Linked DNA regions of Homo sapiens. The protein of the gene in region 4 interacts with the protein of the main gene of each other region in a pairwise test. Each region holds a gene or a part of one and is shown on either strand. Other genes may lie near its edges. The genes, in order: FAM161A, TBRG4, RAD51B and FAM9B.

The links.
Region 1: the proteins of FAM9B (region 4) and FAM161A interact in binary tests that used the Homo sapiens proteins (3 or more experiments, as listed by UniProt).
Region 2: the proteins of FAM9B (region 4) and TBRG4 interact in binary tests that used the Homo sapiens proteins (3 or more experiments, as listed by UniProt).
Region 3: the proteins of FAM9B (region 4) and RAD51B interact in binary tests that used the Homo sapiens proteins (3 or more experiments, as listed by UniProt).

What each region holds. Positions count from the first base shown.
Region 1 is NC_000002.12:61,829,660-61,837,589, forward strand, and holds part of FAM161A (protein FAM161A), read right to left. Parts: intron 6,451-7,930; coding exon 6,351-6,450; intron 1-6,350. UniProt on the Homo sapiens protein: Involved in ciliogenesis.
Region 2 is NC_000007.14:45,100,865-45,108,794, reverse strand, and holds part of TBRG4 (FAST kinase domain-containing protein 4), read left to right. Parts: intron 1-2,695; exon of another isoform or gene 2,696-2,827; intron 2,828-3,030; coding exon 3,031-3,354; intron 3,355-3,752; exon of another isoform or gene 3,753-3,889; intron 3,890-4,085; coding exon 4,086-4,257; intron 4,258-4,312; exon of another isoform or gene 4,313-4,446; intron 4,447-4,538; coding exon 4,539-4,696; intron 4,697-5,351; coding exon 5,352-5,462; intron 5,463-6,303; coding exon 6,304-6,448; intron 6,449-6,724; coding exon 6,725-6,970; intron 6,971-7,180; coding exon 7,181-7,292; intron 7,293-7,422; coding exon 7,423-7,537; intron 7,538-7,930. UniProt on the Homo sapiens protein: Plays a role in processing of mitochondrial RNA precursors and in stabilization of a subset of mature mitochondrial RNA species, such as MT-CO1, MT-CO2, MT-CYB, MT-CO3, MT-ND3, MT-ND5 and MT-ATP8/6. May play a role in cell cycle progression.
Region 3 is NC_000014.9:68,473,562-68,479,306, reverse strand, and holds the end of RAD51B (DNA repair protein RAD51 homolog 2), read right to left. Parts: intron 1,660-5,745; coding exon 1,643-1,659; 3' UTR 1,214-1,642; downstream 1-1,213. UniProt on the Homo sapiens protein: Involved in the homologous recombination repair (HRR) pathway of double-stranded DNA breaks arising during DNA replication or induced by DNA-damaging agents. May promote the assembly of presynaptic RAD51 nucleoprotein filaments.
Region 4 is NC_000023.11:9,030,854-9,038,707, forward strand, and holds the start of FAM9B (protein FAM9B), read right to left. Parts: upstream 3,275-7,854; 5' UTR 2,999-3,274; intron 2,431-2,998; exon of another isoform or gene 2,269-2,430; coding exon of another isoform or gene 2,134-2,268; coding exon 2,106-2,133; intron 1,609-2,105; coding exon 1,488-1,608; intron 1,309-1,487; coding exon 1,277-1,308; intron 1-1,276. UniProt on the Homo sapiens protein: May play a role in meiosis.

The DNA.
Region 1 (7,930 bases), on a different chromosome or scaffold from region 4:
TCAGCAAATTAAATATATAAGACATTAAAAAGACATTAGTCAAAATTTGTGCCAGTAAGCCTTCATCTGACTTTGGTTTAAAATTCAATTTAACATCTTCTCAGTTAATTAATCCTGTGATTTCCAAGAAACAGGACAACATAGTTTATTCTGTAAAGAATCACAGGCATATTGTGTTAGGGAATCACTCAGCAGCAGCGAGACCACAATTAACTCCTATAAATGGGCAAAGCAAATAGCTGCAAGCAAATTTATTAAAAACCAGCTGTTAATTAGCAGCAATAGTTCCAGCAAAATAGACTGCAGCAAAAAATGTACTAAAAAAAAAAAGCAATGGCGATTCACTGCCATGGTAACTCTGTTTATACTTTTTGAGAAGTTAATGAGAAGACCCCTTGATATCATTCATTGAAAATGAGAATAAATGGAATTGGTGAGAATGGATGATTGTCCCTGTTATAAAGGCTTATTAATTGTCTACCCAGGGTTAACATTTTAGTAGGGGAATGAAAATGGTAAGGCGAAGGTATAATGAATGGTTCTGCAAAGAGCAAGGCAGAAAAATCAATCAAACTATTATGATTCAGATAGGAAATAAAGGTTCCACCTGGCATTTCACCACCAAGGATGGTGAAGGGCAGATCCAAAAATTATTTAGGAAGAAAATTTGACAGGTCTCTCAATGACCAGCTGAATGGGGAGGAACTGGGTACACACAGATATGAAGATGAGAACAGTAGGCCAGGCACGGTGGCTCACTCCTGTAATCCCAGTACTTTGGGAGGCCGAGGCAGGTGGATCACTTGAGGTCAGGAGTTCAGGACCAGCCCGGCCAACATGGTGAAATCCCGTCTCTACTAAAAATACAAAAAAAATTAGCCGGGCATGGTGGTGTGCACCTGTAATCCCAGCTACTCAGGAGACTGAGGCAGGAGAATCACTTGAACCCAGGAGGCAGAGGTTGCAGTGAGCCGAGATCACGCCACTGCACTCCAGCCTGGGTGACAGAGTAAGACCCTGTCTCAAAAAAAAAAAAAAAAAAAAATGAGAACAGTAGACACTGGTCTCAAACTCTTGGCCTCAAATGATCCTCCCCCCCTCAGTTTCCCAAAGTGTTGGGATTACAGGGTGAGTCACTGGCCTAATTTTTCTAATATAAAGATATTTCTGGCTGGATGTGGTGGTTCACATCTGTAATCCCGGAACTTTGAGAGGCTGAGGTGGGCAGATCACAAGGTCAGGAGTTCGAGACCAGCCTGACCAACATGATGAAACTTCGTCTTGACTAAAAATACAAAAAAAATTAGCCAGGCATGGTGGCACGCGCCTGTAATCACAGATACTCAGGAGGCTAAGGCAGGAGAATCACTTGAACCCGGGAGGCGGAGGTTCCAGTGAGCTGAGATCGAGCCACTGCACTCCAGCCTGGGTGACAGAGTGAGACGCCTTCTCAAAAAAAAAAAAAAAAAAAGATATTTCTTAGACAAACAGCACTATAATAAATCATTGCTGCATATGTGTTCAATATTGGTCTTCCCAAATAATACTTCATACTTTCTTTCTTGTATTATAGTATCACCCATAATGATTCCTTTAATTTAGCATTTATTTACTTTCCTTTTTTTTTTCTAGACCTGTTGGAACAAGCCTCGCATGTCACTAACACAAATATTAGTATTCCCAGGTTATGTACCTGCTCCCTGGAATTGAGGTTAACAGAAAAAAATAACATATCAATCTGACCATTCCCCCAACCTCCAAAACAATCATATTCACAATTTTGTCTCAACACACATCTGTAATTGCTGCAATTGTGTGTCTTGAATGACTACATTTGTCTGTCTTGTTTCTATCTGACTTTAAGGGTCTCAAGGGATTTTCTGATATTCAAAAAGCATTTGTTGAGAAGGGGGCAGGAAAACAATATGATAGATAAAAGAATCACATGAAGACAGTCAGATCTGGGTTTGAATCCTGGTTCCCCTTCTTCTGGTTGTATCATCTAAGCCTCAAGATGTCCCTCATCTGTGAAATAAGAACCTCACAGGAGCAGTGTAAAGGTCAGTTAAGACAATGCATATAAAGTGCTTAGTGGAGTGCTTGTCTTTCAGCAACCTCTCAAAAAACATTATAAACCAGCTTCCAAATAGCTTTGTGCAGTCTCCCTCTTAAATGCAAACAGACAACCAAAGATAATCTGAGGAAAGCTTCTAATATGATAGACAAGAGGCTAAAAAAGAGAAAAAGGAACTTGAAGGAAACAGAGACAATATCACCAGTATGCTCAGAGATATAAAAGACAGGCTGGGTGTGGTGGCTCACACTTGGAATCCCGACACTTTGGAAGGCCGAGAAAGGAGGATTTCTTGAGCCCAGGAGCTTAAGACCAGCATGGACAACACAGTAACACCCCTGTCTTTACAAAAAATACAAAAATTAGCCTGGCATGGTAGCTTGTGCCTGTAGTCCTAACTACTTGGGAGGCTGAGGTGGGAAGATTGCCTGAGCCCAAGGGGTTAAAGTTGCAGTGAGCCGAGATCATGCCACTGCACTCCAGCCTGGGACAGAGTAAGACCCTGTCACACACACACAAAAAAAAACCAACAACAACAACAACAAAAAACCAACAACAACAAAAAAAAACGTACTGCACCCATGAAAAATACCAAAGGAATATTTAATAAATGGGAAGCATTCTGGAAATTATGTCATTTTTCATTAGGTAAGCAAAAAATGCAGATTTGGAAGATAAATTTGAGGAAATCTTCCAGAACTAGAATAAAATAACAGTGATTTTAAAAGAAATACAAGAAATGTAGATAAATCCAGGTTAATATCTAACTACTCCCCAGTATAACAGTGAAAAAGTCCTAAGATGTCGTTTATGCCAGAGGCCTAGAGCAGGGGTCCCTACCACGAACTAGGTACGGGTCTGTGGCCTGTTAGGAACCAGGCTGCACAGCAGGAAGTGAGCAGTGGGAGGGCGAGCATTATGGCCTGAGCCCTGCCTCCTACAGCGTTAGATTTTCATAGGAGGGTGACCCCTATCGTGAAGTGCTCATGCCAGGGATCTAGGTTGCATGCTCCTTATGAGAATCTAACGCCTGATGATGTGAGGTGGAACAGTTTCATCCTGAAATGATCCATTTCCCGATCCATCCACCCCACCCCACGCAACCCTGGTCTGTGGAAAAATGGTCTTCCATAAAACCAGTCTCTAGCGCCAAAAAGGTTGAGGACTGCTGGCCTAGAGAGAAACCATTCCAAAGTGGAGCAGGACACTTGTGGGCTCCAGGGGAGGAAAGGAACTGATGAATTACGAATGTGTTTAACTGTTTGAGGGGGATTTTTGAGAGCTAACAGAAAAGCCTAAGAATAATAATGATACATACATTGGTGGGGAATGAGGGAAGGTGGGGGGAGGACCAAACAAAATTAGTAATTATTAACACAAGAAAAAATTTTTTTAAAGGAAATGTGATGGGCCAGGCATGGTGGTTCACGCCTGTAATCCCAGCACTTTGGGAGGCCAATGCAGACGGATCATCAGGTCAGGAGTTCGAGACCAGCCTGACCAACATGGTGAAACCTCGTCTCTACTAAAAAATACAAAAAAATTAGCTAGGCACGGTGGCGCGCACCTGTAATCCCAGCTACTCAGGAGGCTGAGGCAGGAGAATGGCTTGAACCCAGGAGGCAGAGGTTGCAGTGAGCTGAGATTGTGACACTGTACTCCAGCCTGGGTGACAGAGTGAGACTCTGTCTCAAAAAAAAAAAAAAAAAGGAAATGTGATGATAATAATATAGGGCTCAGCTGCTAACATTGTTTACTAAGTTATAACACTGAATTCCGATCTAACTGTGATAGAGCTGACTGGGAAACAGAAAGATGGAAAGACGTTGAAAGGGTAGGTAAGTGTGCTTCCGAGAGGACGTGTTAAAACAGCTAAATCCTCACCTACCATATCAATAAGCTAGTAGATAGAGTCTGTAATGAAAAAGATAAAAGAACAGTTGAAAGAATGTTACTGAATAATAAAATACCACTTTGTACCCACTAGGAAGACTATAACAAAAAGACAGACAAAAGCTAGGTGCAGTGGCTCATGCCTGTAATCCCATCAACTTGGGAGGTGGAGGTGGGAGGATCACTTGAGGCCAGGAGTTCACGACCAGCCTGGGCCATACAGCGAGACCCAGTCTCTACAAAAAATAAAATTAGCTGGGCATGATGGTGTGGGCCTTTGTCTCAGCTACTTGGGATGCTCATACTGGGGATCATCTGAGCCCAGGAGTTCAAGGTTCCAGTGAGCTATGATTGTACTACTGCACTGGCCTGGGCAACAGAGTGAAACCCTGTCTCTAAAAATATTTTTCTAAAAAAATCAGACAGACAATAACAAGTGCTGATGCTATTCACAACAGCAAAGACATGGTAACAACCCAGCCCATCAGCAGTGGATTGGATACAGAAAATATGTTACACATACACCATGGAATACTACACAGCCATAAAAAAGAATGAAATCATGTCCTTTGCAACAATATGGATACAGCTGGAAGCCATTATCCTAAGCAAACTAAAGCAGAAACGGAAAACCAAACATCATATGTTCTCACTTACAAGTGGGAACTAAACACTGGGTACACATGGAAATAAAGATGAGAACAACAGACACTGGAGAATATAAGAGGGAGAGTGGAGGGAGGAGGGCAAGGGTTGAAAACCTACCTATTGGGTACTATGCTCATTACCTGGGTGATGAGTTCAATCATACCCCAAACCCCAGCTCACACAATATACCCTTTTTTTTTTTTTTGAGATAGAATTTTGGTCTTGTTGCTCAGGCTGGAGTGCAATGACGCAATCTCAGCTCACTACAACCTCCGCCTCCCAAGTTCAAGCAATTCTCCTGCCTCAGCCTCCCAAGTAGTTGGGACTACAGGCACGCAAAACCATGCCCGGCTAATTTTTGTATTTTTAGTAGAGACAAGGTTTCACCATGTTGGCCAGGCTGGTCTCGAACCACTGACCTTAGGTGATCCACCTGCTTCGGCCTCCCAAAATGCTGGCTGGGATTACAGGTGTGAGCCACGGCGCCTGGCATACCCTTGTAACAAACCTGCGCATATACTCCTTGAATTTAAAATAAAAGTTGAAAAAATAAATAAATAAATAAATAAGAAAAACCCAGAAGCAGTGTAAAGAGCAAAAACAAAAAACTTGCAGTTCAGAGCTGGAGATAATGTCTTTGAGCCAAAAGCCAATCACTTTATGATTATAATGTAGAACAGCTTAAAATGATTTTTCCCCCTAAAGTTGAAATAAAGATGTTAAAAAAATCCATCACTTAAAATGAAAGGCATTATATAAAATTATATCTAGATCAGTGAGCAAAAAGATTACGTAACTTTGAGAGACTGTAATGTGCAGATTCACCCACAATACATGTCCACTGTCCTCAATGAGTCACTGGCAAGTACAGTTCTGTAACTATGCTCATCTGTTACAGGTAAATTCTCCAACTGTCTATTGTCCAATTATAACAGCTTCAAATTCACAATTTAGAACCTGTAACCTCCAGTGATTTTGTCAATTGTTAAGCCATGTCACCCATACAGATGCCTCCCCTATGGGACAAAGGAGAAGATGACCTAAAATTGACAAATTTCCCTTAAGGGAAAGGTTGTAAAACCGGGCATAAACTTAGTAAAATCAGGGTCCACTGTCCGTAAGACTAGTTTGTTTTTCGTATAGAAAGGAAGTTCTTTTAGTAATTGCAGAGAAGATTGAATTACAGACTCACTTAAAAAAAAAAACTAGCAGAAATAACTCTGATTCAATTAGCCATTTTGTTTCATTTTTTTAATTCTTCAAAGACCTCCAAGTGATATCATGAAGCCTCATCTTAATATCTAACCAAGTTTGTACTGAAAAAAGACCAGCCATTAGAAAACAGCTTGCAAAATTATTTTACGAACTACTGGATTGGCATGTTATTTATCAAACTTATGTGCTTCATCAAAAAGATTCAATGTTCAGATTATTTTTTTGAGATGAGGTCTTGCTACGTTGCACAGGTTGGACCAAAACTCTTGGGCTCAAGCAATCTGCCCACCTCAGCCTCCCAAGTAGCTGGGACTACAGGTGCACACCACCACACCTGGCTAAATGCTCGGATTTAAGCAAAATTACTCATTGGCTGATATGATGAAGCCAACACAAACAACAATAATGTATCTCAACAGTTATATAACACATAAGAAAAATGGACTGTAAATTTAGGAGCTAAAGCTGTAAAAAAAAAAAAAAAAACTGACGATAGCTCTTAAATTCCAATAAACACAACCTGAGCAACTCTTTCAAATAGCAGTGGCCTCTTTTTTAATTTTTCTTCTCTTTCTTCTAGTTCTCGTTGGTATTCTCTCATCCTTTCCTTTTCGCTCTTTCTAAAATTAAAGAAAAGCAATGGAATTTTAAAAGATCATCTAAGAAATAAGAACTTACATATGTAACATTTAACTTATCAACTTGTACAAAGTCAATGAAAAAAAAGAAATAACATTTAGCTTAGCTGACAAATCAGAAATTATAAGCACAGTTCACAGTTTACCTCGATTCCTCTTCTATACCGGTTAATTCTCATGGAATGCAGAATAAAATCCTAGGTTCTGAGATCACACATATTATGCTCTAGGAATAGTCTGGACACTTTAATTTCTGAAATCCTCAAGGCATAAATATTTTAAGGGACTTCAAACTGCCCTGAAAAGATGAATGAAAGTCCTCTTGTCTCATTTATAAGTGTATAAAACCAAGAAAATTTTGGAACAAATTAGCTATCTTCTCTGTAAGGAATTTCTCCTGAAAACAAGACTTTGCTCTTATTTTTTATTATTATTTTATTGTTGTTGTTATTTACTTTTGTTTTGAGATGGAGTCTCATTCTGTTGCTCAGGCTGGTGCGGTGGCACAATCTCAGCTCACTGCAACTTCTACCTCCTGGGTTCATGCAATTCTCGTGCCTCAGCTTCCCGAATAGCTGAGATTACAGGTGTGCACCACCATGCCTGGCTAATTTTCTGTATTTTTAGTAGAGATGAGGGTTTCACCATGTTGGCCAGGCTGGTCTTGAACTCCTGACCTCAGGTGATCTGCCTGTCTTGGCCTCTCAAAGTGCTGGGATTACAGGCATGAGCCATTGCGCCTGGCCTATTAATTTTGAGACAGGTTCTCACTTTGTTGTCCAGGCTGGAGTGCAGTGGTGCAATCATGGCTGACTGCAGCTTTGACTTCCTGGGCTCAAATGATCCTCCCACCTTAGCTCTCGAGTAGGTGGAACTACAGGGGCATGCCACCACACCTGGCTAATTTTTTTAAATTTTTTGTAGAGATGGGGGTCTCATTATGTTTACCAGGCTGGTCTCAAACTCCTGGGCTCAAGCAATCTTCCTGCCTTGTACTCCTGAGGTGTTGGGATTACAGATGTGAGCCATGGCATCCAGCCTTTGCTGTTATTTTTTTCCCCTAAATAAGATCTCCTACAGGTTAGTGGCAAAGTTAATTCAATGGGAGCAAGTCAAAGGAGAAGTAAAGAGCATGGGAATACAACATAAAGAGAAACAGGAACCAAAATATATAAATTTACCGTAAGTGTTCTCACTGTTTGAGCAAGATCCTATAATAAATTAAACTACACTATTTTCTCTATGTAAGATATAATTGCTACCAAGATAAATAAGATTAATGGATTGGGGAAAATAATTATACTTTTAAATGATAATTAGGCTTAATTATACACAAGTTGGTGTTATGAAAAAGCTATTGTCCAGGCACGGTGGCTCACGCCTGTAATCCCAGCACTTTGGGAGGCCAAGGTAGGCAGATCACCTGAGGTCAGGAGTTTGAGACCAGCTTGGCCAACATGGC
Region 2 (7,930 bases), on a different chromosome or scaffold from region 4:
CAAGAGGAAAACAGCCAGAAATGCTGGGGTCCACAGCAGCCAGTGCTTACCAAGCATAGACAGGGGCCTTGCATCTCTTGTGATATTTTTTATTTTTTTATAAATTTCAAAGTGCTTTATCGTGCTTTCTCTTTGTTTATCCTTACAAGAGGCCTGTTAGGTAAATATTGCTATGCTCGTCTTACAGACAGCCAAGACGCATAGTGATAGAAGCATGGGAAGTGAGCCTGGTTCTTCTCAGTTCTTTGGGTGCTTTCCCCCTCACCATATAGTCTTGACTTGTATTGCTCTCTGCCAGTGTCTGGCTGATGGCAAGGCACTGTTTTTGAAGCCAAAGGAGATGCAGCATGACTGATGGAAGGTCCTTGAAACTTGAGACAGACGTGGGCATGATCTAGCCATGTTCAGACCCTCCAAGGATGACCATGGAGAGAAGCAACAAGACCCATTTGTGTGGCACTGAGCAGGGCAGAACTCAGACTACAGAAGCCAGTTCCTGCTCACTGTGAGGGACTCCCTTCTTAGAGAGTCTTCCCCTGGGCTCCATGTACAAAAAAAGGAGTACAGACTCCTGCTGTGGCTGAACTGGCCCTAAATCCCTGGTCTGCTTTGGAAGGGAAGTGCTGGGGCACTGAAACCATGTTTCCAGTTGTCAGGTGTAATGAAGAGAAAGGCACTATCCAAGGAAGGAGTTGCACTAACTGAGTGCTTTTCAAACTGCAGGTTATAAAATCAGTGTAGTGGGATGTGGCCAGCTGATTCTTAATGAGGTAGAGTAGTATAAAAAATACCAGAATTCATCACATATAGTAAGGGGATTCACTAATGTCTCATGGAACTTTTGTTCTAGTTAAGGATGTATATATATGCCTGTGTTGTGTGGACTGGGGTTACAGTACATAATTATTTCTTGCTGGGGATATAATTCATAAAATGAACTTAGTTAGGCCCCCTTGTTATTTGGCTACAATTCTAATTGCTGTTTATTGACTCTTTTTACTCACATGTGATTTAAGAAAGTCTTATGATGCAAGACTGAACATTGTAACAAAATTATAAGGCAAGTATCTGTAATGTAATAACAGCTTTCTTTTCAAAGATTTTCCTGCTGTCCATGAAACCGGAAGGTAGACACCCAGATCTTCTGTAAGATTAGAATTTACTCCAGTACTTTCTCCCTCCTCCCCAGCCCTTCAGACAGCAGCTTCTCTGTTCGCAGCTCACTTCCTTGAAGGTGTGGTTTCTGCTTCTCATTCATAAGCGCAGAGACTGAACCTGAGGGTTCAGTGTTGAGAGACTTGGCCCAGGAAAGGACAGAGCCATACTTGTTTTACCATCTGCTCTCTTCTGCAAGGCTGGATTCAGGGCCAAAGGGCTCTAGAGCCACCCATGTTGACACTGTGGGCCCTGTGGACACAGTACCTGAATAGCAGTTACCCTCTTCAGAAACAAAGCAGGCACCAGCAGAGAGGACGGGCTGTGGTGCAGGTTCCGGACCCAGAACTATGTAGAAATAAGTTCACCTTCGTTTACCTGTATAGTGGGACTGATGGTTCTCATAGGATGTTGGTGTCTCATGGGGGTACGCACACAGAAGGATGCCTGGCATTTAGTAAGAGCCTGTTCAGAGGTGCTGCTGGTAGCAGCAGCAGCTTGGTCATCCCTAGGAGGCCTCTGCATTTGGGAGTGGGCAGGGCTTAGTGATACCGGGGGTCTTTTTACCCATATGTCAAAAGCGTTCCTGCAAACCTTTGTGCCTGGGGTGCTCCTCCCTTTGCAGGCAGTTGAGGGTCTGGCATGCTTGGGTGCCGCGTCCCTGGAGGGTAAAGGTGGTGGTTCACTGCCTAACGCACTGCAGGGACTCCTGCTTATTGCAGCAGTTGCATTCCTAAGAAACTTTCACGTTGCCAGAAACTGCGAGATTGGTTTGTTAGAGAACAGTTTAGGGGTTGGAGCTTCTCTGACTCAAAAACAAATTATTTTCCTGGAGAAAAGCCAGTGTGTTTTGTTTTGTTGTTTGAGACAGAGTCTCACTCTGTCACCCAGGCTGGAGTGCAGTGGCACAATCTCAGCTCACTGCAGCCTCCACCTTCCAGGTTCAAGTGATCTTCCCACCTCAGCCTCCCAAGTAGGTGGGACTACAGGCATGTGCCACCACACCTGGCTAATTTTTGTAATTTTAATAGGCACAGGGTTTCACCACGTTCACCAGGCTAGTCTCGAACTCCTGACCTCAGGTGATCTGCCTGGCCCAAGTTTTTAATACCTAAAACTTTTAATGTCGTTGCAAGTAAAAGTCACGAATGATAACAAAACTGATCTTAGCAAGCGTAAGTGCCACCTTCTCTGCCATCAGGTGACATCCATCAGGCTCAACTTTTTCTCTGACCTCTTGTATTGATTTGACAGCTTTACTTGCAGCTGAAGTCTACGTGCCCACTACCCAGAGCTGTAGCCAGGACCATGTAAAAGAGTGTGGTCTCTCTTTAATCAACTACATTAGGTCAAAACTTCATTGGGGAAACTTGGAGAATTTCCCTTGCCACTCTAGAGTTCTTGCTTGCAAGCAATTGCAAATGACCTCAGCCACCTTGAGCAGAAATGTGCTATTTATTGTAGCCTAGAGGATCAGGCTCAGAGGTGTACCCTTGGATCTGGCCTGTGCCTGAGGGGTGCTCTGGCTCTGCAGGTGCTTGGCAGCCATGTCAAATTCAGTGCCTGCCCTGTCTATGGTAGGCACTGGCCCAGAAGACTGCCACAGAAACAGTGACTCACAGGCCCTGTTACTGTGTCCCAGGCTCAGGGATAAATTTGGTTACAGACACCAAGCGTCTAGGCCTCGAGGCTGAGCAAGGCTGTGAGGAGCAGCCAGGCACTGGGGCCCTGTTACAATGGAGTGGGGAACTGATACTGTCTTCTCTGAAGAGTTGTAGTAAATGCTCATGAAACAAGGTTCAGAGAGGTAGCCTCCAGCTCACACACAGGACTGACAGTGCCACATCATTTCTCCTGTGTCCTTTCTCTGCCTAGATTGCCTCGGTCTGGCATGGTACCCTCTCGAAGCTGCTGGGAAGCCTGTATGCTCTGGGCATCCCCAAGGCCTCCAAGGAGCTGCAGTCGGTGGAGCAGGAGGTCCGCTGGCGCATGCGGAAGCTCAAGTACAAGCACCTGGCCTTCCTGGCAGAGTCCTGTGCCACCCTCTCACAGGAGCAGCACTCGCAGGAGCTGCTGGCTGAGCTGCTCACACACCTGGAAAGGCGTTGGACAGAAATTGAAGATTCCCACACATTAGTGACCGTCATGATGAAGGTGGGACACCTCTCGGAGCCACTAATGAACCGCCTGGAAGACAAGGTACTGGGCCTGAAAGCAGGTGGCACCCAGCCTGCCTCCCCTGGGCTTTGGGCTTGTTCTTTGGGTGACAGTTGTCTGCAGAGGGGTGCGTTGTGTGCACTGGGATCAGAGCCCTGGGAGCTTCTGTCTGGAGCCTCAGGCATCACATGGGGCAGGACCAGAGGGCTCGGAGCTGCAACAGGTGGTTGCCCTGTGGCTGCATTCATCAAGCACCACTTGCTCCTCCCAACACAGGCGCTTCCCTGATTGCACCTTTATCTTTCCCCCAAACCCCATCACAGCACGATCTTGAGAGGGGGGCATGGCAGGCAGCTCCTGAAGTAACACAGCTACTGCCCAGGCCTGGCTTCTGGCTAGAACTCTCCTGGAGATGTGCTAACCCCTATCGGCTGTAGCCCTGCAGTCAAGTCAAATTCAGTGCCCGTTTCTGTCATAGCGGGGGCTGGCCCAGATGGCTGCCACAGCAAGCTCCACAGCTCATGGGCCCTGGGTCACCTACCCTGGGACCTGGGGATAAGTTTGGCTGTGGACAGTGCTCCAGGTCCAGGGGTTCCCTGGGGTGGATGAGGAGGCAGGCCCTGCACAGTGGTCCTGTGTTTAGTCAGCTCAGGCCCAGTCTGACAGGGGCTGTCACAGGGGCTGCACTGGATGGGACCATGGGACCCCTGCCCCCAGCTCATCTCTGCCACCCCAGGCCATTGAGCTGACCTCTGCGCGGCTGTGGTTGACAGTGCCTGGAGTTGGTGGAGCACTTTGGCCCCAATGAGCTGCGGAAGGTGCTGGTGATGCTGGCAGCTCAGAGCCGGCGGTCCGTGCCCTTGCTGCGGGCCATCTCCTACCACCTGGTGCAGAAGCCCTTCTCTCTGACGAAAGATGTGCTCTTGGACGTGGCCTATGCCTATGGTGAGCCCTTTGGACAGAACGGTGGAGAGAGGGGAGCGCTGGCCCTGCAGATGCCTGCAGCCGTGTCAAATTCAGTACCTGTCCTATGCATGGTAGGCACTGGCCCAGAAGGCTGCCACAGAAACACTGTGACTCATGGGCCCTGTTCCTGTGTCCCAGGCTCAGGGATAAATTTGGTTACAGACATCAAATATCTAGACCTCGAGGCTGAGGTGGGGTGGAGCTGCTGGGTGATTGCTGACTCTCTCCAGCTAAACCCTGTGATCTGCTCTGTCCTGAAGGCAAACTCAGCTTTCACCAGACCCAGGTGTCCCAGCGCCTGGCCACCGACCTGCTATCCCTCATGCCCAGCCTGACTTCTGGTGAGGTGGCCCACTGTGCCAAGTCCTTCGCCTTACTCAAGTGGCTCAGCCTGCCCCTGTTTGAGGCCTTTGCCCAGGTGAGCCAGGGCCTGGCCCCAACTCAGAGAAGCTGGCTTCCTGGCCATCTGCTGGGAACCATTGCCTTAGTCGGGAAAGTAAAGCCAGTCTGAAAATGCTCACTTGTGGGGGCAAATACATATTTCTTGCATTTTGGCTTATTTTGAAAGGGCTGCTATTCAGTTCTCAAAAAAGTGTTTGAGAACTGTTTCCTCTGTTCTTTCACTGACCATTATAAGTGCTTCCATCCATTTTGGGGTAGCTGTAGCAGGTAGCAGCATGGCTGATGAGACTGAGAATCCACTGAGAACTGTCTACTGAATCACTGATCCCCCTCGCAAAGTGGAACTGTACAGAAAGATGACACCTGCAGTTACGTTTATGTGTGACCAGTCTAAACTAAGTTTACTGGTTGGAGAATATTTCTAAATCCCTTATCAGAAAGAAGCAGCTTCTAGGTGTCCCCAGCCTCTGTGGGTAGTTGCTGCCAGGCGAAGGAGTGTCTGGGCCTGTGTAAGTCCTTCTCTGTTCCCGACACAGCTCATGGGCCCTGGATGGAGGGTCCTGCCATTGCCCCTGGCCATGCAGGCTCTCCTCAGACTCAGAGCCAGGCAGGAGGACAGCGTGCTGGGCAGAGAGCTTATTCTGTCCCTCTGCTATTTCTGACCCACCCAGCACGTCCTGAACAGAGCGCAGGACATCACCCTGCCCCACCTGTGCAGCGTACTTCTGGCTTTTGCGCGTCTGAACTTCCATCCAGACCAAGAGGATCAGTTCTTCAGCCTGGTAGGGCCTCTGGGCTCCCACTGCTCGACCTTTATCCTCCCCTTCAGCTAATGGCTCATGAACCGTCCTCCCAAGATCAGCTCGGGCTAGGTGGAGGCGGGAGGGGCCACTATGTGTGGCATGGGAGGGCAGGGGGAACTGATTGGAGCCAGGCATCCTAGGGATTACTGAGAACACATGAAATCCTGCTGTCTGGTTGACTGCCCTGCCAGGCAGCGCTGGGGGGTCCTGCCTCTGGTGCTCCTTTTAATGCCCTGTTGATGCTCAGAAGCTCCAGTGGGCCTTCGTGCTATGTGCACCAGCTCAGGGCAGGAGGGGGAGCCTTCTTTATGAAGACCTTAGGACAGCCACAGAGGCCAGCAGGCCAGGTGTGATCCCAGGCTCCCTGGGATTCCATCAGGGGTTTGTCTGGCACAGTCCTGAGAACAATTAGCCAGGGGCTGGGGAGTGCTGCTTCACCTCTTGGATGCTCTCATCTCTCAGAGGACCAGAGATTCCTCCTTCCTTGTCCCAGGTGCTCACTTGGAGACATTATGGGAGAAGGGATCTTGTTCCCTGCCAGTAGGTTGGTTGTAGTAAACCTAATCAAATGCCAGCATTCAGCAGCACTCTTCTGCTGTTCAGAGTGGTCTTGGGGCATGAGGAAGATTCCTGGTACCTTCAAGCCCAGGATTGCTCCAGGCCTCACCAAGGGCCAGGGTTCTGCCTCTTGTTACCTAGTAGCCTCCTCTGGCCTCATCCCAACCAGGCCAAGACCACATCATGGATTGTGTCTCACCCATGGCTATTTGCAGCCCCTAAGGAGAGCCTGCTTTCTCCACCACACTCTATCCTTGCCCAGGTACATGAGAAGCTGGGGTCAGAGCTGCCAGGCCTGGAGCCAGCCCTGCAGGTGGACCTGGTGTGGGCCCTGTGTGTGCTGCAGCAGGCACGGGAAGCAGAGCTGCAAGCCGTCCTCCACCCTGAATTTCACATCCAATTTCTAGGTGAGCCCCCTGCCCCTAGTACTACTGGAACTGGGAAACTGCCTGGTCTTGTCTGCCTAGTGCCAGGTGAGAATTTGGGGCAGATGGAGGCCAGGGCTCTCCCTCCCCCTCGCTCTCCATCCTCTCCCTGTAGGTGGCCAGCAGACCGTAACTCTGCTGCCTCCTGACCCAGAAAACTGGGCTGGGACTGGGTGTAGGGGTGCACTGCCCTCTCATCAGGGTCTCCCCATCTCTGGCCGTAGGCCCACCTCCCTCTTCTTTCTCCTTGTCTCCTAGGGGGCAAGTCTCAGAAGGATCAGAACACCTTCCAGAAGCTGCTCCACATCAACGCCACTGCCCTGCTGGAGTACCCCGAGTACTCGGGTCCCCTTCTGCCTGCCTCGGCTGTGGCCCCTGGGCCCTCAGCCCTTGACAGGAAGGTGACCCCCCTGCAAAAGGAGCTGCAGGAGACGCTGAAGGGGCTGCTGGGGAGCGCCGACAAGGGCAGCCTCGAGGTGGCCACGCAGTATGGCTGGGTGCTGGGTGAGGGCTCCCCCTGGTTGGCACAGGGCCTGGCATTGCCTGAGTCTAACGGGACTCTTCTAACCCACCCCGTCTGCAGCAAGTACTGACCTAGGGAGCTGCAGGGTGTCAGCCTGGGCTCCCCACAGTCCCATCTTTGTTCATCTTTCCTGTGGGGGGGTTTCTGAGGGATGTCCCCCAACATGTTCTCATCCCACACCCCTTCCCCAGATGCTGAGGTGCTGCTGGACAGTGACGGCGAGTTTCTGCCCGTAAGGGACTTTGTGGCACCTCACCTTGCCCAGCCAACTGGGAGCCAGTCACCACCTCCAGGGTCTAAGAGGTAGGTGGCCAGGGACCTGTTGGCCATGGGGGCACCATGGCTGTTGGACTGCATATTCTTTGCTTTCCATCTTTCCCCTCCGAGGGGCTGGGAGAGTGGAAGCATGTCAGCCACCTCTTCTTCCTTCCAGGCTAGCGTTCTTGCGGTGGGAGTTCCCCAACTTCAACAGCCGAAGCAAGGACTTGCTGGGTCGCTTTGTTCTGGCCCGGCGACACATAGTGGCTGCAGGCTTCCTGATAGTGGACGTGAGTACCTCTTGGGCAGGTGGTCACTGCACAGGGAGAATCCCCAACCCACGCTAGAGAGGGGATCAGGTGGAACTGAGCCAGCAGGTATAGACACATGCCCTGCCCGTGGCCCCGGGCCTCTCCCAGGAGCCCAGGGAGGGAGTTTACTGTGGATCCTAGCTGCTCCAGCCTCCCCTCTAACCTTCCCAGCATCTCACCCCGTGGGTGAACCCAAAAAGGCAACCAAGCCTGCTTATTCAGCTTAAGAGGTGGGCAGGGTAGGGCCCATTCACAGATGAGCAGCTTGAAGCCCAAGAGGCTGCACAGCTGTTGGGGCTCTGAGTGCAGCTGCTCTGCCCCCTTGGTCAGCGCCTGTTGTCAGGAAAAGTAGGACCAGTGGAACTGGCAGGA
Region 3 (5,745 bases), on a different chromosome or scaffold from region 4:
CCTCCAACTTCTCAAATAGTCCCTTGATGTCTGAAATTAACCAATTCATGTCATAAGAATCCACAGGAAATGTATATTTCCTGATTAAATACGAAAACTCACCTTGGTTTTCACCAACATTCTATTGAACATCCCAAGTTCTCAAAATGTACCTCACTCAGAGGGAGACACATGGTCACAGCCTGGGACATCTTCCTGCTCTGCCTCTTCCAGGTCTACCCAAATCCTTCTTGCCTTCCGATGCACAGCACACCAATACCTTCCCTGATTCACTCCAGCTGAATAAGATGCTCTTCCTATTGCCCTTGCTGCCCGGGGCTTGGATGTGATTCTGCTTTATATTATAGTTAATAGTTTGTAAGTCTTTTCCCATTCCTTGGAGTACATTTTTGGAGGGCAGGCACACACTGAGCTTTGTTTTCAAGCTTTACCTGAGCACTTGGTATGCGCTCAACAAATACTGAGTCGTTAAAGGACTCAGTCTTTCTTCATCAATCTTCATCAATCTGCACCTACTTGGTGCACAGCACTCTGTTGGGCACTCATAGGAGACATGAAATAGGATGAGACTTGATTCTAGCCCTCAATGCACTAAAAATCTCTGATGGAGGAGCAGGTACAAAGTGATTCTACAGAGGACAGCTTGAGGTCACTAACAACCTGGGTAAGATAGGTCACAAGGCCAAAGGCTGGAAAGATTTAATGCCTGGCTTTGAAGGGGCTAAAGCCCCCAGACCTTGCCCTGAACCCAGTCTGATGCTTCAATCAGAGCCTCATGGCAGTAGGAGTGTGTAGGCTGGGTGTTCTACTGGAAACGACTAAATTATCCTACGGGTCACCAATTGATTTATTTGCTAATTGACTGGCCCAGCTTTGGGCTTTAAATCTAAAGAAATCATTTCATCCTTTATTAAATACTGCATGAGTCTCAGTCTTTGTTCTGCAGGGCTATACACAATATACCAATAAAACTTGAATTTACACTACAATAGTTATGCCACTAATGACCTTCAAATGCCACTAATACCATACATGCTCCACTTCTCGGCTGGATCTGAACCTGTCAGTGAATTCTGAGCCCATCGACCTCCCTCTGACACAGAGTCGACCCCCTTGCCCATGCCCGCCCCCAGCCTCCCACATCATTCCATGATTTCATTTCTGAATCGGTTACTATTTGGAGACCCCAATTCCTTTACACCTACTCTTTTTATCTGGTAGACAATACTTTATTCGGAAATGTTCCCTCCTGTAATTACAAATCTTGTTAGTCATCCTCCTCCTCTCCCCAGGAGGATTGTGGGCTTTAATTAATTAATGTGGTTAAACCGCTTTGAGGTGCCTGGTTGAAAGGTGCTATATAAGTGCAAATTATTATTATGGCTGTTGACATCCCATGGCGGCAAAGCCCTCAGCCCTACACATCTAGAGACCTGAACAAAGGCTTCTTCATCTTCACCTTCCCTGCTAGGTCTGAAATCGCTAGCTCAATGGTTTAGGAGCAAATCTGTTACCATCTCAACAGCAATCAACTAATTAATCCCCATTATGTCAGCTTCCGTTTCCTTCTTCCAAGCAGTACGGTCCTGTTTTATTTCACAAATCACACCCCCATCAACTCTAGACAAAGGTCACAGTATCCCTATGGCTTCTCTTGGCCTAAAGGAAAAAAAAAAAAAAGAGAAAGTTTGAAAAAAAAAAATTGTTATGAAATGCACTAACTTCCCACCAGCAACCTAAATGGAACTTTCCTCCAACAGCAGTCCTCTTTCATACGTATTGCCCACAGAGCCACTGGCCTTGCAAACCAGAGATCCAGAAACACAGCGGAAGTGTGGGTTAGGGTCCCGCAGCCCTGGCTTGACTAAGGATAGCTATAGACAAAAGGGGAGTGTCGCTGCACTGGGTGGGAAGAGGTCATCCACAGAAGCAAGCACCCCTCTTCAGCTTTCTCTATGACCCCCAAGTTTCCCCTGAGAAAGCCAGCTGCCATCTGTAGCCAGGAAGCCCTCACAAAGGCAGGGGACCATGATTTAGATGTTTTGTGCTATATCTAGCACACCACAGTCCTTAACAAATGCCCAATACTTCCACTATGATGGTAGCCATTGAAAGCAGCCCTGTGGGGGAGACTTGGCCTCGCATAGGGACGCGGCTGACCAAAACACTCCTTACAAGGTTGTGCCTCACACCCTTTGTTCCAGTGGATGTGGGCAAGCCTCAGGGGGTCATGTCTTCATCTGCCTTCATTTATCCTCCCTATTGAAGGGCTCCTTCAGGACACTGGTCAGCCTCTGTGGGAAATGATTTGGAGAGCAACAAAAGAACCTGGGCTCTCTGGGAGGGCTTCAGAATTCAGTAAACATCTGGACATGGAAGGCCAGGTTCTCAAGCAGTCTAGCTGGGGAGATGTCAAAAGAGAGAAAGAGCTGTGTCTGCAATGCAAGCCCTTAGTTCTGTGGCGACATTTGTTGTAGAAAGACACAGACACCCCAGTAGGTAGATAGGAAGATTTTTCAAAAGCTCCTCTATTTGTCGGGTTTTGTGAGTTCAGTGCACTGTTTGTCAGTTCTCATGGCATGTGTGAGGAAACAGAAGTTTCGCATGGCTGGCGAGCAGCATGTGATGGGTGTTCTGACTCTGTGTGAGCTATGAATAACCTGAGGTTGCATAAGCCTGTCCTGGTAGTTGCTGTTAAGCTGTCTGTTATCCTTGAAGTTTGTAAAGCCCTCATGGGTCAAGATGACTTACTGGATTCTCACCCACGAGCACATTTTAATTGACAAAAAAATTAAGCACTAAGTGGCGAAATGATTTACACTTCATCGGTGAAATTCAGGATCTGAACTCTTGACTCTCAACGTTGCCTTTATTGTTGAGTCAATCCATTTAGAACACATTAGTCAGCATGACTCAACATTCACTACTAATCAGCATTAGTGATGGAACTAATCAGCATTCCCCAGTGTCCCTGAATCTATCCTCAAATAGCAAAAGAAATTGGCTTCTGTCAAGAGACAATGGAATGCGGTTTTTGTCAGTATTCACAAGCTGAAATCCAGTCCAAGTCCCACGTACTCTCAAGAACCTACCTCAGTCATCCTACTTGGAATAAGTCTATTCCCTTTATCCTTCTATATTCCACTGTTTGAACCTTGGTAATAGGTATCACAGTTGGCTTTTGATTAAACTTATTTAACTACATCTCTCCTAACTAGATTCTGGGCTACTAAAAGGAAGGGACCTTTTTTTTTTTTTTTTCAGCCTTATATCTCTTGACCCCTGAGCACCATGCTTTGTGAACAATAGATGCTCAACAAATATTTGCTGAACTGAACTCACTGAAATGCAGCTTAAATCATATTCCAGAAAGAACATGAAGTTCTTTGGAAGAGACTTTCAAAGAAAATCAACAACCTGAATTGATTTAACATATTTTGGTACTGTTACCTGGCCATTTTTGCAAATGCAAATTGTTAACTCTGCAAAGATAGCCAAGTGGCTTCCAGGTTCTAAAAGAGAAATGTAAATCCAGTCTAACTATAGTCCAGGCCTTGGAATAAAGTTTTTCTCAATAATGTTATTTCAACTGATATTTTGTTTCATTTTTTTTTTAAAAGTGGAGGTAGGAAAAAACATTTTGGAAAAAAAAAAGTGTTTGGTCTATGACTTTGGACCCAAGTTCATGCCCTGCCTTGTGCTATAAGCAATAGTAGCTCTCATTGAAGTTTCTTTCCTGGATACTGCATAAAAGCAAAACACATACTAAAGTTCCTTCCTGAAGGAGATTCTGTTTTGGGTGGGCAGAACAAGATTTTTGGGTGCTGATCCTTGGTGAAGTGATACCCTTTCTCTTCTACTTTAGAGTCTGGAACCAAAGAGGGTCCTGATGGCACTTTTCAATACATACAATATTTATGCTGCATTTTAAGAGTATAACTCTATTATGCAACAAGCCCAGCCCTTACGTCTGTACTATTGCACCTAATCTCTGCAACTGGGCTCTTCAGAAAGGGCTGTGTCACCGAATATTCATTTTCTTTTCTCATGATAACAGAAATCCCGAAATTTAGCTGGGTATATGGCCACCCAGATTAATGACTATATTTTTAGCCTTTCTGATCATATATTTACAGACTGGCCAACATCATATAAACAGAAATAATGTGTATAACTTCTGGTTAATGTCCTTAAGGGATGGGGGATGCTTTCTCTCCCACCACCATTCTCTATCTCATGCACATCCTGCTACTGGGATGGAGGGCATGATGCTGAACCATTCTGGACCATGGTAACGGCAACATCCTAGGTGTGACAGAGCAAAAAGTCAATGGCCTGGGCTCTTCGATAGACATGTAGAGCTAAGCTGCCAAACCAGCTCTGGACTGCATTCCTCCTCGGCACTACAGGAGGAAGCAGTACATCTCTATCATGTATACCACTGTTAGTTTAGGTTATAGTTACACCTGGCCAAACTTATAATCTAACTGCACTCAGGGACTTCGTTGAAGGATTATTGTATCAGTATGACCAATCCATTTTAGCTTAGAATTTCCAGATTCAAATTTCAGGACAGGCCTGAAGTATCTCAACAGAGGCTCATGAAGCCTGAGAGGTAAGTTGTCACAGGGGCTTCCCTGATGGAAGATGAGAGGGCCCAAACCCACTTCGGATTTTCTAAAATCTTAGGAGCCCAGGCTGAGGGCTTAGAAATGGCTACAAACCCAATTTTGAGGCAGTGAACATTACTTTACCTTTCTGGAACTCAGTTTCCTCAAGTGAGAATCAGGGTGATGGATGAGATTAAAAGCTCACTTTCTGGGAACTATTATATAGTTAACTTTAGGGAAATGAAGAATTTTTTTAAGATAGAGAGAGATGGGGTTTTGCTCTGTCACTCAGGCTAGAGTGCAGTGCATCCCTAAAGAAGGCATGAGAAGACTGCCTATGGAAAGATGACAACAAACTTAACGATTATACGAGGCTGCAGAGAAATTGGTCTACTATCTCCAGAACGAGTATAAATTGGTAAAAGTCTTTGGAGAGCAATTTGGGAAGATATAGTAAATGGAAACGTGTAGACACTCTGACCAGCCATTCCATTTTTTATATATACCTAGTGAAACTCTCATACCTAAACATCAAGAAGCACAGGTAATAAAATTGTTACAAATAATCAAAATTTCCATAAGTAGGGGAGTGGGTAGCATGTGGTACATTCACACACTGAATGGATGTGGATATCTAAGGTGAAAGAATGTGACCTGTGTATCACGTGGCCTGTGTATCATGTGACCTGTGTATCACATGGCTATATTACAAAAACAGTGTTAAGCAACAAAAGCAAGTTGTGAAATCGTGTACAATAAATCATTTATGCAAATTTCAGAATGCACTCAAAATCAATCATTATACTATGTGTGGATTCACATATATGTAGAAAAGTTTTTAAGAATGGAGAGGAAAGATGTAGACCAAACTCTGGAGAGTTTCCACTTTTGTGGAGGAATGTGGGATAAGGAGGGAATGGACCAGGAATAGGTACAAAGGAGTCCTAAAGTTTGTCAAGTTTCATTCCTGTAAATAAAAAAAAAATCTGAAACAAATGGGACAAAATTTTAGTATTTATTTGGGGTGTTAGATTCACCTGTTTTCTTTTATGATTTTCTGTACTGTTCTGTATTTAAAATTTTTTTTCATATATTATAAAATATTTCCAAATATTGTAAAATCTCTCTTCAAGGC
Region 4 (7,854 bases):
ATGCTATTAACTGTATTTTAATAAAAGAAGCAATGGCCATGAGTATAAAAATTTAGGTTTAGGTAAAGAAATACATTCAAAAACACTTTTGAAATGTTTTCTTGGAGCTTTTTATGACATTTGTACCCATAGTGCTGTGTTTCAGAAAACTGTAATACTGCAAGGAATGCTTTCCTAAACATGATTTCACATCAGAGCTCTACCATCAATTGCTAAGAATAATTTTCAGCAATCATAAAAGATTTGTACCACAATGCAAATATTTTTTACATACAGTCTCCATCTATAATGCCCAATGTATTAGGCAGCTCACAAAACCAGCACTTTGTCACCAAGCTTTCCAAATATACTGCTTGTATGAATCATCGCTAGAGAAGAGCTGAAAACTGAATTGAGCTTTTTAAAAATAAGAGTATTGTCTCCATCATCTCTACAGAAATTTTCTCAAACTTTTTTGAAAATATGGTCCTATAAGAGTGTAACTAATATTTCACACAGCAATATAAAGTTTATGAGTTTTTGGAGCCAATTACATGTTTCTCACTAGGTAGAAAAGTTGTCCTTACTTTTCTACTACACAGTTTATTACTGGAATAATAATAGAAAATGATTTTAGAAAATTCAATTTTCTCTTGTACTTTAAAGAAAACAAAATCAGAAAGCTGTGACAATAGAACAGCTAAATTAGGAACATGAAAAACTCATATTAAAAACTCTGAGTACAGACGGACAGGAAGAGAGGAACAACAGACAACTGGGCCTACTTGAGGGTGGAGGGTAGGAGGAGGGTGAGGATCAAAGACCACCCATCAGGTACTATGCTTATAAACTGGGTGACAAAATAATCTGTATACCAAAACCCTGTGACATGCAATTTATCTACATAACAAACCTCCACATGTACCCCCAAACTTAAAGTAAAAGCTAAAAAAAACCATTGATATATGACTTAATCTGTGTATACTAAAAGGAACGAATAGAGCTGTTTCTCCTCCACTGTCCTCTAATATCCTCCAAACAATTAAATTTCCACATGTATGAAAGAAAAGCCATCCATCTCGCTTCACCATTATTAGAAGCATTCTCACATTCCACATCAACAATCAAAAAGGTAAGAAAAATTTATCAAATAGATTACATTAAATACGTACGTTAAATGCTACATATGAGAAGCCATTTAAGACAGTCTTGTCGTCCACTAATTCATATAACCTACTGCAACAGTTGTATGACTGAAAACAATTTTCATAAACTACAGATAACTCCTAAAACATACCTGCAGTATCTTCTGGCTTCTTGGTATTAGCCCTGTAAAAAAAGTTACATCAAAATTTTAACAAAATACTACACAAAATGCCATGTTTGTTGGGAAAAGAAATGTCTTATGTGAAATGTTCTGCATAGAATAGAACAGTGATGACATGGTCCAAAGCTGACTTTTCCTAAAAGACCCTATCCGACAGGCAAAAGTGACTTAAACACTTTACCCCGTGTGTTCATCTGTTTCAGCAAAAGGTTCTCTTTCCCCATGCTCATCAGTTACATCTTCCTCCCTTGTTTCTGTAAAACGGTTTCTTTCCTCACATTCATCACGGACTGGATCCTTTCCTGCATTAAAATGTAAAAGACAAACCTTTTTTAGAGGAAGATGCTGCTGTGGACATTTTTTGTGGAGAAATGTACTAGTTGTAGACTTTTTTGGGGGGGGGGGGCTCTCTGCCAATTAAAGCTTTAAAGCAGAGCTATACATGGAATCACCGGTTCCTGACCATTTTATCGAGGGACTTTTGGAAGCCCTTCGGGTTCAGGTTCCAGTAAACAACGTACTACAGTTCAGACCCCTTGGATGTCAGGACTGCACCCATGGAGAAGAGCTGCTCTGAGAGCATCTGTAACCCTGCTATGAGGGGGAGCCTTCCACGGGGAAGCCTAAGGCCCTTGAGCCTGCTTTGAAAACCTGGCGCATCTTAGCACGTGCACAATGGACTCCAGAGCCACGAAGGGGCCTGGGGCCTCGGGCTGCCCCTGTGCCCCCAGCGCAGAAAGCAGACAGACCGTCCTCTTGGGCGTGCACCTTCTTCTGGGTCCCCTTGGGCTGTATTTACCTGCATGCTTCTTCCCCCAGGCCGCCATAAATTGAGCCTCCAACTGGGCCTTGGCAGCCCTCCTGCCCACAGGATCCGTGGCTGGTTGTCCTGGGAAGCTAGAGGCGATCCCCGAACCTGGTGAGCGCAAAGACACACTAAGGAAGCTAAGGAAACCTGGCATCGGAAAGGAAAGCCATTGGGATCACAGGTTCAAGAAGGGTGGGGCTGGCCCGCCCTGGGTCTCATGTGGGAGCAGGAAGGGACGGAAAAGATGCCAGTGTCCCCTCCTGTCCTGGCCCGTCCAGCCCGTCCCCGGGGCTGGCTGCAAAGCTCACAGCTGCCCCTCACACCTGAACTCCACGGCCTCTGCGGGATCCTCGCCGCCCTTTTGGGACAGAACTCAGCCCTACCTCTGAGTCACCTAGCGACCCCATGTGGCTGGGAGGGCCGCTGGGTGACACAGGATCTCCCCAGCCACCTCTAGGGGAATGTCAGGGGCTGCACTGCCACTCGCCCCCCTGGACGCACAGGGGACCCCCGGTGACCCCCGGTGACCCCAAGTGTCCTGTCCTGTCGGGCGGCCAGGCAGGAGGGCCCCACTCAGACTGTCCCCCACAACACCCCCGCCTCACTCCCACTTCTCCCCCCCTCGGCCCCTCCCCCCAACACATGCACAAGCCCCCAGGACCCTCCCGGGCCCTAGGGATCACCCAGGCAGCTCCAGCTCCCTCCCTGCCCTGGCCCACCCCAGCCCACCCTAGCCCACCCTCAGGGCCTCGCCCTGACCCAGGCCCCAGGCGACGACGCTGGGGCCATTTCCTCACAGGTCGGCGGGCTGCCCAGCGCTTCACACCCTGGTTCCCAGAGGGCCTCGTGCCTGCGTTCCCGCCTCCCCACCACGAGTGCTTCACCTGAGGGACCCCTGATGTGGCGCCCTCAAAGAACCTGCAGGCAGCGGCACCACTAGGACCTCTTAGAAAACGGGTCCTCTCAGGAAGCTGAGGCAGGAGAATTGCTTGAACCCAGGAGGCGGAGGTTGCAGTGAGCCCAGATCACACCACTGCACTGCAGCCTAGGCAGCAAGAGCCAGACTCCGTCCCAAAAAAAACAAAACAAAAAAACAAAAAAAAAGAAAAGTAAAGAAAACGGGTCCTCAGTTCTCGTGAGAGCTGCAGGCAGGACTTCCTGCGCTCCTCGCTGATTGGTCGGCTCAGTGCACATGCGTGTGACGGGCTGTGTGGGGCCAGGCCCCCTGCTGGCACGCCCTCACCCTTCCCCTAAGTGACAGCCCGTGGTTGCTGTGGACTGGGGTGGGGGTGGCCCTTTGGGGCCTCTGTCCCCACAATCTTTCAGCTTCTCCTCCTGGGGAGAGACACAAGGACTTGGGATGGAGGCCAAGTGGACAGGGCCTAGAACCTCGCCCTGGGGCTTGTTCCAGCCACCCCTGCCCCTTTGGCTAGAATGGCCATCACCCTGTGGGTGGAGCCCAGGCTCCCTCCCATGCCCTGTGTGCTTCCAACATGCCCAGCTGCGTCCTTTTTAATCAATGGATTGTGCTTTTATCGTTTGTGTTTGTTGGTTTTTGAGACTGAGTCTCACTCTATTGCCCAGGCTGGAGTGCAGTGGCAAGATCTCAGCTCACTGCAATCTCCCCTTCCCAGGTTCCAGCGATTCTCCTGCCTCAGCCTCCCGAGGAGCTGGGATTACAGGAGCCCAACACCACGCCCTGTTGTTGTTGTTGTTGTTGTTGTTGTTGTTGTTGTTGTTGTTATTATTATTATTGCATATTCGGTAGAGACAGGGTTTCACCATGTTGTCCAGGCTGGTCTCGAACTCCTGACCTCAGTTGATCCGCATGCCTTGGCCTCCCAAAGTGCTGGGATTACAGGCGTGAGCCACCGTGCCCAGCCCATAACCTTTTTTGTTTCCTCACTACTTTTCTTTCTCATCCTCATGCCCCAGACTTGCCCACAAACCTTCATACTCCAGACTTATCCAGACATATGCCACAACCTTCACCCACAAATTAATGCCTTAATACTTATCGTTAACTCAGCTTTTTCCCACCTCCGATCCCCTGTAATAGGGAGAGAGTTGTTTCGGAGTTGGGAGTGAATAAATATTGCCTAAAGTTTGTAAATCAAGATACAGAGTTTCATTATACTATTGAAATTATAAAGGCAGTCATCAGGAAAACTAATCCACAGCCTTAAATGCCTATATAACCAAAAAGAGCACACACAAAGCATACAAATCCTGTAGTAAAAGTTGGAAAATAAAGAAAATACTACAGAGACCATAACATAACATAAAAGAACAGAATTAAGGCCAAGTGAATCTGTTGAGCAAGAAATATGAATGAGATAAACTCGCATTCTAAAGGAAATGACTTCCAACTTGGATCAAAATAAAAACCTAAGTATATGCTGTATGTAAGAATGGAATTAAACAAAATGATACAAAAAGTACATATCAGAAAAATATGAAGAAAAGGAAAATATGGATCTGAGAATTGATATCTCATGAATGTAAAATAATGCAAAAAATAAATGAATAAACTAAAGGCAGAGTACACTGAACAAGAGAAGGGCACAATCTACTCTGACAATCTCACATGAATCATTTTGTGCTTAACACAGCATCAATGTGCCTAAACCCAAAACCGTAGAAAATAAAAGCAAAACAATCAATGAAAATGAACAGTGATATGAGAGTTTAAGCTCCGTCTGTCCAGGAGAGACCAAATACAAATGTATTGTCTTGGATACAGGCATAGTATCTTAAATTGCTCTCTTGGCAGTAGAGTGAGCATTTTCTTTCACTTTCAACCAATGAACCCTCACCACATCCTATAGTACTTCCTTGGCCACTACTATCTTCTATTCTACCTACAGTTTCCCAAAAGATTAAAAAATTAGAAAGACTTCATTCTCAGCAAACTATCGCAAGGACAAAAAACCAAACACCGCATGTTCTCACTCATAGCTGGGAATTGAACAATGAGAACACATGGACACAGGAAGGGGAACATCACACTCCGCGGACTGTTGTGGGGTGGGGGGAGAGGGGAGGGATAGCATTAGGAAATATACCTAATGCTAAATGACGAGTTAATGGGTGCAGCACACCAACATGGCACATGTATACATATGTAACAAACCTGCACGTTGTGCACATGTACCCTAAAACTTAAAGTATAATAATAATAAAATTTAAAAAAAATTAGAAAGACTTACATTAGCAAATAGGAGAAAAGTTTTCTTGTTGTTGTTGTGTGTGTACACACCTGCATGTAAATGTGTGTGTGTGTGTGTGTGTGATGTTTGTTGTTTGTTTTTTTGAAATGGAGCTTTGCTCTTGTTGCCCAGGCTGGAGTGCAGTGGCGGGATCTCGGCTCACTGCAACCTCTGCTTCCCGAGTTCAAGCGATTCTCCTGCTTCAGCCTCCAGAGTAGCTGGGATTACAGACGCCCGCCACCAAGCCTGGCTAATTTTGTATTTTCAGTAGAGACGGGGTTTCACCATGTTGGCCAGGCTGGTCTCGAACTGCTGACCTCAAGTGATCTGTCTGCCTCGGCCTGCCAAAGTGCTGGGATTACAGGCATGAACCACTGCGCCTGGCCTGGTTTTTTGTTTGTTTGTTTGTTTAATATGAGAGCCAGCACTAAATGATCTTCAAAGTATCTTCAAAACTTAAATGTTCACATGATATATTTTTCACATTCAGTGTGAGTAAAGCATGGAAGGTAATGTTCCATTCTGGTGCATTAAAGCATAATGGTGTTGTATTTGAGAAGAGAGAAAGGGAGCTGTGGTCTGGAAACTGTTGCCCAGAGCACTGGAAAAACCACCTTAGAGCTGTTTCAGGCTGTTTTAAGTTCCAGATCATTTTGAATTCCTGCCCTAGAAGCTATGCACACTCAGAGAATGAGTTCAGTCTTGACCCATGATATTGTACTGAATACCTCAGCTACTTTTCTACAGATTAAATAACATAAACTCCTTTTACTTTTCTTCACAGTTCTTAAAATGAAACTTTAACAATGTCTCCTTGAAGGCGTTAAGAGTGCTTCAAAATTCTATCTTTCTTTCGTATTGTCTTTTCTTGTTGTTAGTTTGTTTGGTTTTGGTATAAAGGGAGCCTAAATCTGGTTGCAGTTAGTAGGAATCTGAGAAGGCTAAGTTCAAAATCTCAGAAAGATTTTCTTTATATTTTCTATGTTTTATATTCCTTTCATAAATTCTGATATGAATACTTTCCCAGTAAGAATATTTGTATCATGCTTTAACATTTCATTTATCTTTGTGTGCGAATTAGCATTTGTTTTATTAAAACAATCTAAATGTATTAAGGAATTAGATTATAGGGAAATTAAATTAAAACATAATTTAAAAGAAATTATTATATCCAGATACTGAAAAACAGAGGTATAAAGATGTTGTGACCGGGTCCAGGAGGAAGGGGGTCAGGGAAAATGATGTACCAGACTAATGAGTGGCTTGGACACTGTATTAGTCCATTCTCAAATTGCTATAAAGAACCAAGACTGGGTAATTTATGAAGACAAGAGGTTTAGCTGACTCACGGTTCCACAGGCTGTACAGCAAGCATGGCTGGGGAGGCCCCGGGAAACTTACAATTATGGTGGAAGGTGAAGGGGAAGCAGGCAACATCTTCACATGGCGGAGCAGGAGTAAGAGAGTGAAGGGGAAGGTGCTACACACTTTTAAACAACCAGATTTCATGAGAACTCACTCACTATCACGAAAACAGCAAGGGGGAAGTCTGACCCCAGGATCCAATCACCTCCCACCAGGCCCCTCCTCCAGCATGAGGATTACAATTTGACATGAGACTTAGGTGGGGAAACAGAGCCAAACCATATCAGACACAAAGTTGAGCTCTTCATAAAGCACAAATGTTCCAAACCGGAACAAAGGTAGGTTAGCATTTTCCAAATGCCAACCTCCAAAGACCTCCAGATTAGGACCTCAAACACGTTTCAAGTTTGTCACATGGCTCTCCTTTTACTTGACTGCTCTCCAGGAAAACCAAACTTTACCCCACATGCCTCTGATATTATTAATGTTCCTTCCTAGGCAGACAAATCCTATCAGAATTTCAAACCTACCCTAAATGTTTCCTCTTTAATGTAGCCATTCACCCAGTGCTTTTAAATATGTGAGACACTCTTTCTTTTTGCAACCCATTTAGAGCTTTTATCTGTCGTGGGAAATTTGCCTTATATTGCAGTTATCTGGGAAGTCATATTCCCCATTAAACTACATCTGAAGGTCCAGAACAGTTTCCAAGGTATCCGTATAATATGGAGCACTCAATGTACACTGACCATATTGAATCCAACAAAATTGAAATTAATGTAGCTTTTTATCTTTAAAACAGAAAAATAATAACGAAAAAGCCACAACTCACAGAGTACTTGAACTTGCATCATTCTGCTAAGTGGCATTTTTATGAGTCCTAAATGCTCTGCACTATGCTAATGAAAGACAAGGTTGCAAATAATTGCCTGGGCCTCCCAGAGAGACGTTGGTACAGCATTCTGGCCTGCTAGTTTAAAAAAAAAAAAACTTTTTTCTCGGCCTAGAAAAACAGGTTCCTGATTTGTATAGTAGAGGCTAGCTCCTTTCTAAATTATGTGCAGACAACACTGGTCTGTATATTTGAAGTGAATTAGTGTCTTTATGTAATCCCTGAAGGTCTCCATAATTCCTTGTTAACACGATGGAGTTTCTGATGTGCTGTC